Linked DNA regions of Homo sapiens. The protein of the gene in region 3 purifies or fractionates together with the protein of the main gene of each other region. This does not show direct contact. Each region holds a gene or a part of one and is shown on either strand. Other genes may lie near its edges.

Evidence for each region. The genes of interacting proteins can lie anywhere in the genome.
Region 1: the proteins of NTRK1 (region 3) and DNAJC7 purify together in Homo sapiens (affinity purification with mass spectrometry; 2 studies listed by BioGRID and IntAct, with this or other methods). This does not show direct contact.
Region 2: the proteins of NTRK1 (region 3) and ATP1A1 purify together in Homo sapiens (affinity purification with mass spectrometry; 2 studies listed by BioGRID and IntAct, with this or other methods). This does not show direct contact.
Region 4: the proteins of NTRK1 (region 3) and PFKP purify together in Homo sapiens (affinity purification with mass spectrometry; 2 studies listed by BioGRID and IntAct, with this or other methods). This does not show direct contact.

Annotation. Positions count from the first base shown.
Region 1 is NC_000017.11:41,989,935-41,993,460, reverse strand, and holds part of DNAJC7 (dnaJ homolog subfamily C member 7), read left to right. Parts: intron 1-3,078; coding exon 3,079-3,197; intron 3,198-3,526. UniProt on the Homo sapiens protein: Acts as a co-chaperone regulating the molecular chaperones HSP70 and HSP90 in folding of steroid receptors, such as the glucocorticoid receptor and the progesterone receptor.
Region 2 is NC_000001.11:116,383,223-116,386,748, forward strand, and holds part of ATP1A1 (sodium/potassium-transporting ATPase subunit alpha-1), read left to right. Parts: intron 1-147; exon of another isoform or gene 148-331; intron 332-791; coding exon 792-902; intron 903-1,560; coding exon 1,561-1,620; intron 1,621-3,526. UniProt on the Homo sapiens protein: This is the catalytic component of the active enzyme, which catalyzes the hydrolysis of ATP coupled with the exchange of sodium and potassium ions across the plasma membrane.
Region 3 is NC_000001.11:156,859,493-156,863,664, forward strand, and holds the start of NTRK1 (high affinity nerve growth factor receptor isoform 2 precursor), read left to right. Parts: upstream 1-1,372; 5' UTR 1,373-1,442; coding exon 1,443-1,654; intron 1,655-4,172. UniProt on the Homo sapiens protein: Receptor tyrosine kinase involved in the development and the maturation of the central and peripheral nervous systems through regulation of proliferation, differentiation and survival of sympathetic and nervous neurons.
Region 4 is NC_000010.11:3,109,027-3,112,552, forward strand, and holds part of PFKP (ATP-dependent 6-phosphofructokinase, platelet type), read left to right. Parts: intron 1-328; coding exon 329-454; intron 455-3,195; coding exon 3,196-3,260; intron 3,261-3,526. UniProt on the Homo sapiens protein: Catalyzes the phosphorylation of D-fructose 6-phosphate to fructose 1,6-bisphosphate by ATP, the first committing step of glycolysis.

The DNA of each region.
Region 1 (3,526 bases), on a different chromosome or scaffold from region 3:
TTGAGGCAGAGTCTTGGTCTGTTGCCCAGGCTGGAGTGCAGTGGCGGGATCTCGGCTCACTGCAAGCTCCGCCTCCTGGGTTCATGCCATTCTCCTGCCTCAGCCTCCTGAGTAGCTGGGACTACAGGCGGCCACCACCACGCCCAGCTAATTTTTTGTGTTTTTAGTAGAGACAGGGTTTCACCGTGTTAGCCAGGATGGTCTTGATCTCCTGACCTTGTGATCCTCCCGCCTTGGCCTCCCAAAGTGCTGGGATTACAGGCGTGAGCCACCACGCCTGGCCTCAGTAAATGTTTTGATAAGAGGATACATTAAGAATCATTCACATTGACTGATGGTCTTTTATTTGGTAATGTATATATCTGATTAGCTTATGCAGAGTCCCGGCAGTAACTTATTAGCATCCCTCTTCTGTCCATTGGTTTTAATAACCACAGTTGTCTTTGTAATGTAATTCATAAGTTTGTTTTGTTTGGCATGTGTGTGTTTGGAAAGCAATTCTGCCTACTGTCAGTTTTCTGAGGTTTACATAGGCAAAAGCTTTGTCTTGAGAGGTGGTCTTTTGGGTTTCTTTTCTCTCTTGCCTACTCCAGAGCCAGAATCCTGAGTTTGTGACAGAATCCTCTGTTTGTGACATCCCAGCCCCCCCACTGTAGCTCACGGTGATGTCACAAATGAAGAATTATGATCCTGGCAGGGGAAACAGATGAACTTGGAAGAAACAAAAGATCTTCTTTGCCTGCAGCTGTCCCTAGTCATGGGGAGGTTGGGGGGTGGGAAGTGAAGCACTGACGATCCCCATGATTAGCAGAACCAGCTCTGCATAAAACGGGGTCCTTGTGAAGGCAACAGGGTGTGGCTGCTGACATTTTGACTGACTTTTTCCTGCCCCCTCATTCCTTTTCCATCTGGGGGGGCAGGACAGTTAGCACAACTCTACCTACATAATGCTTAAGTTTTCATATTGTCCTTAGAACTTTCAGGACATGCCGAGTGCGGTGGCTCATGGCTGTAATCCCAGCACTTTGGGAGGCCGAGGTGGGCGGATCACCTGAGGTCGGGAGTTAGAGACCAGCCTGACCAACATGGAGAAACCCTGTCTTTACTAAAAATACAAAAAATTAGCCAGGCCTGGTGGCGCATGTCTGTAATCCCAGCTACTCAGAGGGCAAAGGCAGGAGAATTGCTTGAACCCGGGAGGCAGAGGTTGCAGTGAGCCAAGATCATGCCATTGCACTGCAGCCTGGGCAACAAGAACGAAACTCCATCTCAAAAAAAACAAAAAACAAAAAAACAGAAAACTTTCAGGACAGTAAACCTGTGCCACTGAAGGAGAGGCATTCCTGTCACTGCTGTGTGACACTGCAGAAAGTCTTCTCAGTGAAACAGCTGGTAATGTGGTAGTGTTTACTGACTTGCTCATATTTTAAATTTCAGTTTTGGAATAGGTGCTATTCATGGTTCAAAAACTAGAAAGTGTTGCCAGATGCAGTGGCTTATGCTTGTAATCCCAGCACTTTGGGAGGCCAAGGCAGGAGGATCACTTGAGGCGAGGAGTTCGAGACCAACCTGGGCAACTTATTGAGACCCTGTCTCTACAGATAATTTAAAATTTTAGCTGAGTGTGGTGACGTGTGCCTGCAGTCCCAACTACTCATGAGGCTGAGGCAGGAGAATCACTGGAGTCTGGGAAGTCGAGGCTGCAGTGAGCCATGATTGTGCCACTGATACTCCAGCCTGAACAGCAGAGCAAGACCCCATCTCAAAAACAAAACAAACAAAAGTTAGAAAGTATGAAAAATATTCAGTGATGAGTGTCCCCTCAAACTTGTCCTCTCTCCGCCCAGTTCTCACTCCCCTAAGCTAACCACTGTTCTTATGTCTTCTATTTTCTTCCTTAGTTTTGTTGTACTTATATAAAATAAAGATCCTTGATTTTCTCCCTTTATTTAGCGTGAAAGGTAGTATGCTTTATGGCAGGTCTGCACCTTTAAAAAAAAATCACTGAGTAGCTCTTGGAAGTCTTTCCATATTAGTACATGAAGAGCTTCTTCATTCTATTTTAGAACTATATAGTATTCCATTATATGAATGTCCATGTTAACTAACCAGTCTCCTGTGGATGGAATTTGAATTTTTCTGCTTGTAAGTTTTCAGAGTTTATCTCTTCCTGACCCCCATGGCCAAATTCTTAGAGGGAATAGGTGTCCCTTAACTCCAGATTTGTCCTTCGGTTCATTTATTCTCGGCGTGAATGTGATTCAGCAAGGCTCTCCCAGGAATAAATAGCAGCTAAACCAAAACTGAAAGCTCAGAGGACAAACTAGTAAAAAGAGAAAAACAGAATATATGGAGATGCTTTATGAGGCTGAAAGAGTAAATTAATCCCCACCTTTTTGTGTGTGTGATTGCTCCTTGGCTTGTGGTTTGTATAGTGGCATGTTGGGAATAGTAATCTGATGTAGCCTATTTAGAGCCATTTAAAATAACTATTTTAAGGCTGGGTGTGGTGGCTCACGCCTGTAATCCTAGCACTTCGGGAGGCTGAGGAGGACGGATCACGAGGATCAAGACCATCATGGCTAACATGGTGAAACCCTGTGTTTACTAAAAATACAAAAAAAAATTAGCTTGGGCGTGGTGGCGGGCGCCTGTAGTCCCAGCTACTCGGGAGGCTGAGGCAGGAGAATGGCGTGAACCCAGGAGGCAGAGGTGGCAGTGAGCCAAGATCCTGCCACTGCACTCCAGCCTGGGTGACAGAGTGAGACTCCATCTCAAAAAAAAAAAAAAAAGTGATAATATTGCCTATTTCATAAAATTCTTGTGAGGATTAAATGGGTTCATATATGAAAGTACCCAGTAAATGTTTACTGTCCTCATTATCATCTGGAGCCTTTGCTGTCCTCATTTCAGTGCTTTTATTTAATGAATTAGGTATGTTTTTAAACTTTGATATTACTTAGAAGTGGACCCAAAGACCTCATTGAGTTTTGAGTCTGTTACCTGTGACTAAACTAAAGTGAAGATGTTTCTGGAGTCCCTGATGAAGAGCCTTATTTGTTTTCTTCTTCCCTACAGGTTGTTTTCTGCATGGACCGTGCCCTAGAATTTGCCCCTGCCTGCCATCGCTTCAAAATCCTCAAGGCAGAATGTTTAGCAATGCTGGGTCGTTATCCAGAAGCACAGTCTGTGGCTAGGTATGCAGTCAGGCTAGCTGGACATTAAAATGCCAGATACCATTGGACTGATGGTGTCCGGCAGCTTCACCACAGGATATGGTCCCCAGAGTAGGCCAGCTAGGGCTGATCAGACCCTCTTGGGACTTAAAGTCAAAGATTAGACCAGCTTTGAAAACCCGTAGGGTATACAGGAGTATAGTAGTATAGCAGGTACTTGAGCTATATATGAAAGAACAGATTGTGTTTTTGTGGTTTTGTTTGTTTGTTTAAGGTAGTCCTTTTCCTTCTACTCCACTGGTTGGCACACTTTCTGCAAAGGGCCAGATTTTAGCCTTTGCAGGCCACAG
Region 2 (3,526 bases), about 40 Mb from region 3:
GTTTTATTTTCAGGCTACAGAATGGGCTGGGCGCTCCCTTTTTTATCTCTTATGCAAAGAATTTTAAGGAGTCTTAGGCTGACTTTTTAATATGGGAAGCTGGTAAAGGTCAGTGTTCTTATGTGAGCACTAAAGATATTTAAATTTGATATGTAATAATGTCTTTGCAAAGCAAAGAATATAAACAGTATAAAAGTACTAGCATTTAGATGTATTGTATCATTTAATCCTTAAAAACATGAAATGAGGTTGGCACTATTCTTTATCTCCACGCTGTGGAAGAGGAAATTGAAATGTAGAAGTTAGTAACTTGCCTAAGGATACACTGCTGGTAAGTGGTAAAGCCCAGGATTTTAACTCAAGGCTGTCTGATTGAGAATGCGGACTCATAAGCACAATATTGCACTCTAAGTTAATAATGTAAAGTTAGTTTCATTCTTTCAGTAGGGAAGATGGAAGGCTGCAGAATAGGGATTTTGATAGCAAAAATCTCCTCATTAACCCCAAAAGGAAGTGGCACTGGCAGGGCCATTCTGAAGCCTACCGGTAGCTTCAGTATTGTTCTTAATGCTCTTGGATGGAGAGAATGTATCTTGAGCCAATGTATTAATAGTAGATTGCTTTGCTTATGTAGTAGGCAATATATGGGTATACATTTTCCTGACTATTATCTTAATGACTATTCCAAATTATGACTACCTTAAAAACTACCAAAATCCCCTGCTCCAGAATTTTCAGTTTCAGATGAGGTTCATAATTCATGGCCTCACTTTTCCCACATTCTCCTACAGGTTGGACGTGATAAGTATGAGCCTGCAGCTGTTTCAGAACAAGGTGATAAAAAGGGCAAAAAGGGCAAAAAAGACAGGGACATGGATGAACTGAAGAAAGAAGTTTCTATGGTAAGTACTAGGAGGAATATTGTATTCCATCCTTATTAAAAATCCATGATTTTTAATCCCCCAGGCCTCACTGTATTCTTCAAAGAACTGCTATATATTAAAAGAGATCATAGCAGCTGTACAGATCTCATCTAGTCGTAGAGGTTAATGTTGAACATATACTTTTTAAAAGCTGTTAGAGGGTAGGAAAAGTTATTCAGTCACTCTGGCATAACCAGAGATAACAGAAGGAACTTAGGTTGATACCATGAGTCTTTGCTTTTCTCTGTATTATATCAAACATTGGGAAATTCAGCCTCTCCAGGCGATGGAAGCTTCCATAGACTTAACCTGTCTAGAATCGACCTGGTCATCAGAGAAGGCAGATAAGGTTTTACTAGATCCCTGAGAGCTGCTGGGTTTCTCTGAAGTGTTATGGCAAATAGTAATGGGCCACGGTCACTCAGCTTTAGCCATTCTCCAGTGAAGAGCTGTCAATGATAACTGTGTGGTTGCAAAGCCACAAAGCGATGGTGAAAATTGTACCAACTTATGCACTGAAGAAAACATCTGCACTTTGTTTAATAAGCTTAATGATAGTAATGAATAATGCTATTTTTTCTGTCATTTTTTTATACTACACTGTTTAACTATTTTCTTTGTTTCTGTTTTCCCTTAGGATGATCATAAACTTAGCCTTGATGAACTTCATCGTAAATATGGAACAGACTTGAGCCGGGTATGTTCTAGTTTGAAAGCTGTTGTACAAAATCCTAGTTTTCCGTATTATATTTTCCCCTGTATTACATACAGGTCTAACCTCAGGGGCTCTAGTAAGAAAATGACAGACACCATCTGCGTATCTACCATGTGACATGCACAGAATTTGGGCATTTATATGCTACCGTTTCTTTTCCCTGAAACTTTTTGAAAGTAGATGTTATTTTCTTTTCCCTATTTTATAGCAGTTGAGAGCCAGTAAGTGGGAACACCAGGACTTGCAGTTGGCTTCAAAGCCATGCTTATGCCTTGACCTTTTGATGATAAATTTTCCCTTTATTTTTCTACATTTGTTAAATAGAGTTGAATCTTTCACCTAGTTGAATCTTCAACAATTCCCATTTTTGCACTTTTCCCAGCTAGCCCATTGCAGTGTGTTATGGTTATACTATCATTTGTTTAGTTATTCTATCATTTAGTTGGAAATTGTTTTGTACAAAAATTAAAGAAACCTTTTCATAAAATAGGCGTTATGTATCCTTGTTATGTAGAGGATTTTGATATTAAATGTGTAACAAATGTTATAAAAGTAAATAGTCTAGGGATGTCTTATTTCCAGATAATCACTGAAATGTCTGGGAATAACTTGAATAGCAAGCCAATATGTAGCATTTTTTCAGTAAGGCATCAAGAGACATGGGTACTGTGGTATTCTGATATATATTGGTTTTTGTCCACAGTTCCTGGTTCATAACTCCCATAGCCCTTATTACAGTCGTTTGTTATAATGTTGGGTGTGTTAGACCTCAGTGGCAGGCTTCAAGAAACAGGATCTCTCTCCTGCCCTCCTTTTCACCTGTCGCAAGGCAGGACTCTAATCTTGTTCCACTTTTCTGATTTTCCAGGTAGATAGTGTTGGAATTGAATTGGAGGAAACCTTGGTGGTGGGGAGAAACCGCCACACCTTTGCTCACAGAAGTCATCTTCTGTGTTGATTGTTGGGGTGTAAGAGTAGAGAAGAGGCCGGGTGCGGTGGCTCATGCCTGTAATCTCAGCACTTTGGGAGGCTGAGACTGGTGGATCACCTGAGGTCAGGAGTTCGACACCAGCCTGACCAACATGGAGAAACCCCGTCTCTACTAAAAATACAAAATTAGCCTGGCATGGTGGTGCATGCCTGTAATCCCAGCTACTCGGGAGGCTGAGGCAGGAGAACTGCTTAAACCTGGGAGGTGGAGGTTGCAGTGAGCCAAGGTTGTGCCATTGCACTCCAGCCTGGACAACAAGAGTGAAACTCCATCTCAAAAAAAAAAAAAAAAAAAAAAAAAAAAAAAGGAGAGAAGAACAAGGTTGAGAGCGTTTTTCTTGACACAAGCACTTTAAGCTCCAAGAGGAGGCCTCGAGTCAGCTCAGAACAACATGCCAACAGTGACTCTGTGCTTACTTTGTGCCAGGCAGTCTCTAGCCACTTCACATCTCACTTAAGTTTTTATTAGAGTCTTAATGAAGTGTGCTCTCTCCGACCTATGCCCATTACTCAAATGCTGCGGGTCTATTTCTTTACTTATAAAATGAGGTTAATAATGCCTAAAAAAGGATTGTCATGAGAATTAAACAAGTTAATTAAAGCACTGAATTCAGTTCCTGGCATGTAGATAGCACTCAAATGTTTGGTAACATGAGCACAAAACACAGATAAATAGATACTTTAGACAAAAATATTTTATTTTTTTTTTGACTTGTTATTTTGAGAGTATAAAAGTGATCATATTTTCCTCTCTTAATGAGAGCTTATATGTAATTGCCTGCTGTCAGTGAATCTTGGGTTTAAGGCCCATTAGAAAAATAGCAGGCTTTAGTAGAGTGGTTTTTTCCAGTGAGTACTTTTCAGTCAACAGGTTTATTGGGAGGTGGCTAAAATGCAC
Region 3 (4,172 bases):
CTCGACCCGGGAGAACGTGGACAGCCCTTGGCCTCTGGGAGCCCCTCTCAGCCTCCTAGGAGGCCTCCTTGTCCTCTTTGGAGACCCCTTAGCGCCAGGCTCCGTCACCGCCTAGTCCCTTGGTTCTGACCAAGATCCCGAGGAAGAAGGCGATCACTGTGTAGGGCTCTGCCTCCGTCTGGTCACCTTCTTGAGCTCAGGCTGCTCGGTCGGTCTGTGTGTCCCTGTCTCGGGGACTTGGGGGGCCATCCGTGCTGGGGCCTTGGCGGAGAGAACCGTGAGCCTCTAGGAGGTCGTCCTTCCCCCGCTCCCTGGGGCCTTGCCTGTCTCCCCGCCAAGAGACACCCCTCTTCCCTTCGCTCTCCCCAGCTTGAGACGGATGGGTTAGTGCAGCCACGGAGGCTTGCGCGGTGGGAGGGGTTGGGACCAGCCTTCTGCTGCCCTGGGTGCTGGGGATCCCGGGGCTTTCCAGGTGCTCGGCCTCCAAGGTGCGCGGTCCTCAGCTCCACCCGCGGGCGGCTCCTGCGTCCGAGGAGCTAAGAGAAGATCTATTAATTTCTTCACGAATAAATCGATGCTCTTGTCAGGGAGGCGATCGATGTCAGCCCTGCCCTGCCTTGCCCTATCCTGCCCCGGGGCCGGCGCTGGCTGGCCGGGGTCAGGGACTGAAGCTGAGACCTGAGGCGTTGCTCACTGGGGGCTGCAGATCGCACCCCCAGGCACCCAGCGCGGGCGGGGAGCTCGCGCCTTTGCGCGCGGGCTTCTCGCGCCACCCTGTGGCTTCTCTTGGAGGCGCGGTCTTGGCTCTCCGGACTCCCTTCGGCCGGATTAGGCGACCCCTTCCCTTTCTCTGCCCCGTCTGTGTCTTCCTCCCCAGGTTCTGCGATTGATCCTTTGGTAGTCCTTTTCGTTTTCTTCCTAGAGTTCGGAGAATGTTCTACCTAACTTACTCCAAGTGACATGCTCACTCCCCTAGGCACGCGCGCCGCGAGGATGGAGCGCTGAGCCTGGGGCTGGCTAGGATGACCTGGACAGCAACCTTTCCTCAACGCAGTCATCTTCCCTCCTCCCCAAATGTAAAAATGCAGCTGCTTTAAGCTGAGAGAAATAACGTATCAGCTTCCCACCTCCGGCCTCAGCAGACACCTCCGAGGCGTTCTGCTGCGGCCCCTCAGCGTCTGCCGGAGCTGAGGCGGATCCTCGGGGAGAAGGCTGACGCTGGGGGCCCCTAACAGGGGAGGGGGCAGAGGGGGGGGCGTCAGAGAGTAGGAAGCGGGTGGAGAAGAGGGGCAAGGCGGGGCCGGGCGGGGGCCGCTGGCTCCGCCCTTTCCTGGCGGCTGGGTCTTTAACACCGCCCAGCGCACATGTCGGGGGAGGCCTGGCAGCTGCAGCTGGGAGCGCACAGACGGCTGCCCCGCCTGAGCGAGGCGGGCGCCGCCGCGATGCTGCGAGGCGGACGGCGCGGGCAGCTTGGCTGGCACAGCTGGGCTGCGGGGCCGGGCAGCCTGCTGGCTTGGCTGATACTGGCATCTGCGGGCGCCGCACCCTGCCCCGATGCCTGCTGCCCCCACGGCTCCTCGGGACTGCGATGCACCCGGGATGGGGCCCTGGATAGCCTCCACCACCTGCCCGGCGCAGAGAACCTGACTGAGCTGTGAGTGTCCGGCGGGCGGTGGGGGGGCGCGGGGACAGGCAGGCATTGCAGTGCCCCGAGGGCGCGGACTCGCTGCTTGTTTGCTGGTCAGGCAGGACGAGCACGGCGGAAGGCTGGCACCACGCAGCCTTCGGCGCTGCCCGGGCGTTCCTCCGCAGCCGCCGCTGCCCTAGCAAGCTTTATGGTCAGTGCCTGGATGTCCCCTAGTGTTCAGGGCAGCTGGGCCGCCGGCTTCAGGGAGATCGAAGGGGGAAATCTCCGTGGACCAGGTCTGAGAGAGCCTAGCCGTCTAGAAGGCGCTTTCTGGAGCTCAGCCAGAAGCCCCTGCTCTGTCCTACAGAGAAGGATGGTTACCAGCAGAGAAGTCCCCAGTTTGTCACCCTTACTGCCTTTTTCCTTTTCTAGGGGCAAGCCAGCCCCCGCCCACTTTCTTGTTATGAGGAGGCAACCCTAGCTTTTCTTCTGGAATTGGGGATTGAGCTGGCTGGCATTGGTGGGAGGCGGTGAGGAGCTGAGTGGTTGAGCTCTCCTCTTTCCATTTTTACCATTCCTTCCCCCAGAACCCGTTGATTTGGATCTGGGAAATGGGACCCCCTCCTGGATTTTCTCTCCCCACTCCCATCTCCCTCTCCAACCTTGTCTCTCTACCTGGGGCGGGGAGTCAGGGCCCTTGCTGAGAGACCCTCCTCCCTTTGGTACACGAAGCTGGGAGGAATCTTCAGCATTCTGCAGGACTCTGACATTCTGCAGGAATTGGTTACAAAATACTCAAGTACTTTTTAGCAGCTGGTGAAACCTATGGGAGTATGCGGTAATGACTGGCCTGGAGGTACTCAGGCATCATATGGTGATGGCTGGAAAATACTTGAATATTACATATGGCTATCATGGCCAGCAAGACATCTAGAAGAGGGGAGAACTGCTAGAAAATCCTCCTCCTGTGGCCTGGGGTTTCGAGGGTGGACAAGGAACCTTGGCCTTGTGCTGTGATGGGCTGGAAGGTATCCGAGGTGAGGATCATCACTGTCTGGAAGTTACTTGAGCAGCTTGCAGTAATTGGCACTGAGTTCCTTGGGTATCTCATGGTAATTAACGGGAAGGCACTCAATCTCTCTCTCTAATAGCTCTAGGGAGACCAGGAGTAGAGGAGATGGCCTTGTCTTGGTCTAGGCCTAGGTCTCTGCATGATGGGAGGGGGCATGAGAGACAGGTTGCCAGTCCTAGTCCAGTTCTCTCATCACCCTGGGCCTTCAGATTGGGGTCCAGACTCCTGAGTGCTCCCCATCAGGGCTCGTGTTTCCCAACTCTTTCCAAGCCCCAAGTGGGTCCAGCAGGGTAGGGATGGGAGTGGTAGGGGGAGTGGACAGGCCAGAACTGGGGACTAGCAAGCATGTAGGGTGGTGAGCTGAGATGTCCCCCTGGGTGGGGCTGCAGCCTGACATCCCCCTCCCCACTGCCTGCACAGCCCCCTCCCTCCTCACTCACCCGCAGAGCTAACGAGGAGATAATGGACTCGAATAGACAGATTGATTATGAATCCAAACGAATGAGGCAGCTTTGAGGCAGCTTTGAGCACGCTGGCCTGACAGCTCCCACACACCCTGCCAGCCCACTGCATTCTCACCCCCTCCCTGGGTCCCTACAGCTTGAAACCCTCTGGGCAGGGGCTGGGGGGTGGGTAGAATAGGGACTTGGCCTCCCTCGGAGTCAGTGGAGGTTACTTTATAGGCCTCTACTAAGTCCACAGGGAAACTTAGGACCTGATCCTGGCTGTCCTGGTGGGGCCAAGGCTGGGAAGGGAGGAAAGGAGGAAGGGAGGGGTCACTTAGGCTGGTCCTGGTTCCTATAAGTTAGGGAAAGTTAGAGGGTAGAGGGGGAGAGTTCTGAGAACCGTCAGTGAGTCAGGGGCCCCTGGCATGTGTATTGTTGGGGTGGGGGGGGCACACTAACATGTCACTACAGGGCAGCCGAGTTCTCAGGAACTCCCTGGTATGTCGGATCCAGCAGCTAGGCAGGCCCCAGGGCGTCAGCTGTCCCCTAGCCCCGAATGCCTACTCATTCTTCTTTCTTTCTTGTCTATCTCGCTTTCTGTAGCTCTCTGTCCTTATCTGTCTGTCTCCCTCCCCTTATCTGTCTTCCTTCTTGCCTGTCACTATCTCTCTGACCTCTTCCTGTCAGTTTCTCTTTCAGTGTCTCTGTTTCACTCTCTCTTTGTTTTTCTGCCCGTCTGCCCCCACCCTCCTCGTTGAGCCTTTCCATCTTTCTGTCTCTCTCTCTCTCTCTCTTGCTGTGTAAGTCAGCCAGTCTGTGCCTCTTCTCCCCTCCTCGACACTCTGACTGCCTCCTCTCATTGCTCCTCTCCTCTTTCCTGGGTCCCTCCTTGGGGTCCCTAACTGATAGCCTGTAAGACTCTTGCTTGATCTGCTGAAAAGATGGTAGGGGAGGTTTCGGTGGAGTAGGGGTTGCTGCTTGGGTGTGAAGAGGGGCCAGAGGCTATGGGGGTGCAGAGATGTTTGTG
Region 4 (3,526 bases), on a different chromosome or scaffold from region 3:
CACGACGTGGACCCCAGAGGGCACAATCCCAGGGCAGAAAGGCTGTGTTTCTAGTGAGTTTCTGGAAACTGACTCAGGGCAGCAGGAATCCCAAGTACAAACCCTCAGTTCTTAACACTCCTGCTCTCCATGTGCCCTGACCTCCTCTCTGTTCCCGTCTTGCCAGTTCTAAAGGAGTGGAAATCGCTTTGCTCTAAAGAGTTGGGCTGGAAGCGGGAGGGGCTGTGAGCACCTGACTGAGGTCATTGGACGTCATGGAAAGATAGGAGGTGACAGGGACAGGGCAGGACGGGAGGCTGCCCCTGACCCACATGGACCTGGTTTCCAGGCCAGCCGCATGGGAGTGGAGGCAGTCATCGCCTTGCTAGAGGCCACCCCGGACACCCCAGCTTGCGTCGTGTCACTGAACGGGAACCACGCCGTGCGCCTGCCGCTGATGGAGTGCGTGCAGATGGTGAGTGGGCAGCCCATGGCCAAGGGCAGGGCGGAGACGGCTGGGACAGAAGCTGCTTGTCAGGCCAGCCTGGGCACCTTGGGTGTCTCGTCGGTGCACGATGCATTACACGGCCTTTCTGAGAAGGAGGTGAGCTGCCCGTGGGGAGGGAGAAGGCTTATGTTCTCTCCCACACCTGCAGAGCCTGCGCCGTCTTCGCTCTTTGGTTTTCTAAGTTACCATCCATCTGTGTGGCACATAGTCGTAACCTCCCCTGAGTGGGGGTCTAGAGCATCGGGATCCTCAACAGTCGAGGATCCAGGTGGCCCCAGTGCACCAGGTGCTGCAGAAGGACAGAGTGCAGGGAGGCAGCCGAGAGAGAGAGATCCGTGGACAGACTGCAGGGAGGCGGGCGTGAGAGAGACCCATGGGGCAGAGGGGGCAGGGAGGCAGGGAGGCGGGCGTGAGAGAGATCTACAGGGTGGTATTTTGTAGGGGAAGGTGGGACCTTCCCAAACTTCTCCAGTTTCAGCCATTTCCTGTCCTCCTATCCCCAAGGACATTCAGGTCTGTGATGGGACACAGGGAAAGCTCTGGTCACCCGAAGATACACCCACCCTTCTTGGGCCAGGGAACTGTCTGCCTGCAAATGAACAAAGGGAAAAGCAGTTCCAGCTTTTCAGGCATTGGTTCAGTAGTGGAGGTGGCTGTGGAGTTAGCTGCATTTGAAGTTATTTAATTAATTAATTTATTTATTTAGAGACGGAGTCTCACTGTTGCCCAGGCTAGAGTGCAGTGGCGTGATCTTGGCTCACTGCAAGCTCCGCCTCCTGGGTTCACGCCATTCTCCTGCCTCAGCCTTCCGAGTAGCTGGGACTACAGGTGCCCACCACCACGCCTGGCTAATTTTTTTTTTTTTTTTTTTTTTTTGTATTTTTAGTAGAGGTGGGGTTTCACCGTGTTAGCCAGGATGGTCTGGATCTCCTGACCTTGTGATCCATCCACCTCGGCCTCCCAAAGTGCTGGGATTACAGGCATGAGCCACCACGCCCAGCTGTTGTTTTATTTTTCAGAGTTCATTCATGATTCGTGACTCCTGTTTTGTTGCCTCTTAACACACACAAAGAAGTCGTGAAGCAATCAAGTCAGGGACTTGTTGAAAGTCACCTTGTAAACATAATTTCCAAAAGCCCAAGGGAGAAAATAGTATTTGTGTGTATGTGTGTGAGTGTGTGCGCAGGCTTGTGTCTCTGTGTGTATGTATGTATATGTGTGTGCATGTGTATCTCTGTATATGCATATACATGCAGGTTTATGCATATATTTATGCATGTGTGTGCATGTTTGTGAGGTAGTTTGGGTCTGCATGTATGTGTATGTTTATATGCATGAGTATGCATGTTTGTGGTAGTATGTCTGCATGTATGTGTGTGCATGTTTGTGTGCATGCATGTTTGTACGTGTGTGCATGTTTTTGTGAGGTAGTGTGTGTGCATGTTAGTGTGTGTGCATGTGTGTATATGCATGTGTACATTTGAGTGTGAGGTAGTATGTTTCTGCATGTTAGTGTGTGCATGTATGTTTATATGCATGTGTATATATGTGTGTGAGGTAATGCATCTGCATGTGTGTGCATGTATGCTTATATGCATGTGTGAGCATGTTTGAGATAGTGTGTGCATGTCTGTGTGTGCATGTGTTTATATGGATGTGTGTGTATGTTTGTGAGAGGTAGTATGTGCCTGCATGTTTGTGTGTGTGTGCAGGTATGTTTCTATGCAGATGTGTGCATGTTGGCATGAGTGTGAGGTAGCGTGTGTCTGCATGTTTGTGTGTGCAGGTATGCTTATGTGCATATGTGTGTATGTTGGAGTGTGAGGTAGTGTGTGTCTGCACGTTAGTGTGTGCCTGTGTGCATGTGAGAGGCAGTAGGCTTAAAAGGCTCAGAGCACTGAACGACATGCGGTACGTGTATTTTGAGCCTGTGTCTCATGTCTCTGCTTGTCTAGAGACGACCGTGGTAGGTGTCACTTGCCCTGACCTTGAAACCACCCTTGTGTGGCTTTGTTTTTAAAGCTGAGGGACCACTACTGTGCACCTGCTGTTTGTCAGGCGTCTTCCTGAGGGTCTGACATGCTTGAATAACCTTAGAGATAGCTGGAAGTAGGAGTATTTTTCTCATCTTACAGATGAGGAAATTGAAGTTCAGAGCGAGAAAGAACTTGACCAAGATCCTGACGTTGCCCAGGGCTGCCTGGCGTGCATCAGTCCCAGCCCCGTGTCCCAGGGCCTCCATCCGGGCCCCTCTGCTCCCCCGCCCGCTGTGACCTCGCTCCCATCCCACATCCCCCAGTGAGCTGGTGTGTTCTGTTTTGTTTTTCCCCACCATAATCAAATTGAGAATTCCTTAGAACCATGCCTGAGAGATTTCATTTCCTCTGGCTTTGTTCTCTTGGAGTTAAATCTTCACAGTGTTGTGTCCACAAACAGCAGGTGACACCTTCTCTTTTTCCTCAGAAGCCTCCTGAGCTAAGCAGTCCCAGGGCTCTGACCTCACAGCCGGGCCGTGTGGGGCTGGCTGCCAACCAGCATTAGGACACACTTGGCGGCCGGTCGTCTAGACCATTAACCCTGGGGCTGCTGGCTGCCCGGGTCAGACTGGAGGGGGCTGGTGGGAAGGACCGAGCCAGTCTCTACCTACCCCATCCATGATGCACCAGGTCCTGACACATTCTTTCTTCTTTTCATCATTGTTTTAAAAGACTCAGGATGTGCAGAAGGCGATGGACGAGAGGAGATTTCAAGATGCGGTTCGACTCCGAGGGAGGTGAGGTGCTTTGGAGAAAGCTCTGCCCTGTCAGGAACACACACCCCTCAGGCCCAGCCACTGCAAACGTGCTTAGGGGTTGTGCTTATTCCATGTCACTGTGAAAAATCAGAAAGTCAGGCAGTACTCACAGCACCGCTCTTGCAGTAGCAGGCCCTGGTGACTGGTTAGAGAGAAATCATTTTCTAAATTTGCCATTGGTCCTTTTTGGTAAGGTGATGGTTGTTTAGGAGCTAATGAGATTAAGGCACAAGGTGACTTGTGGC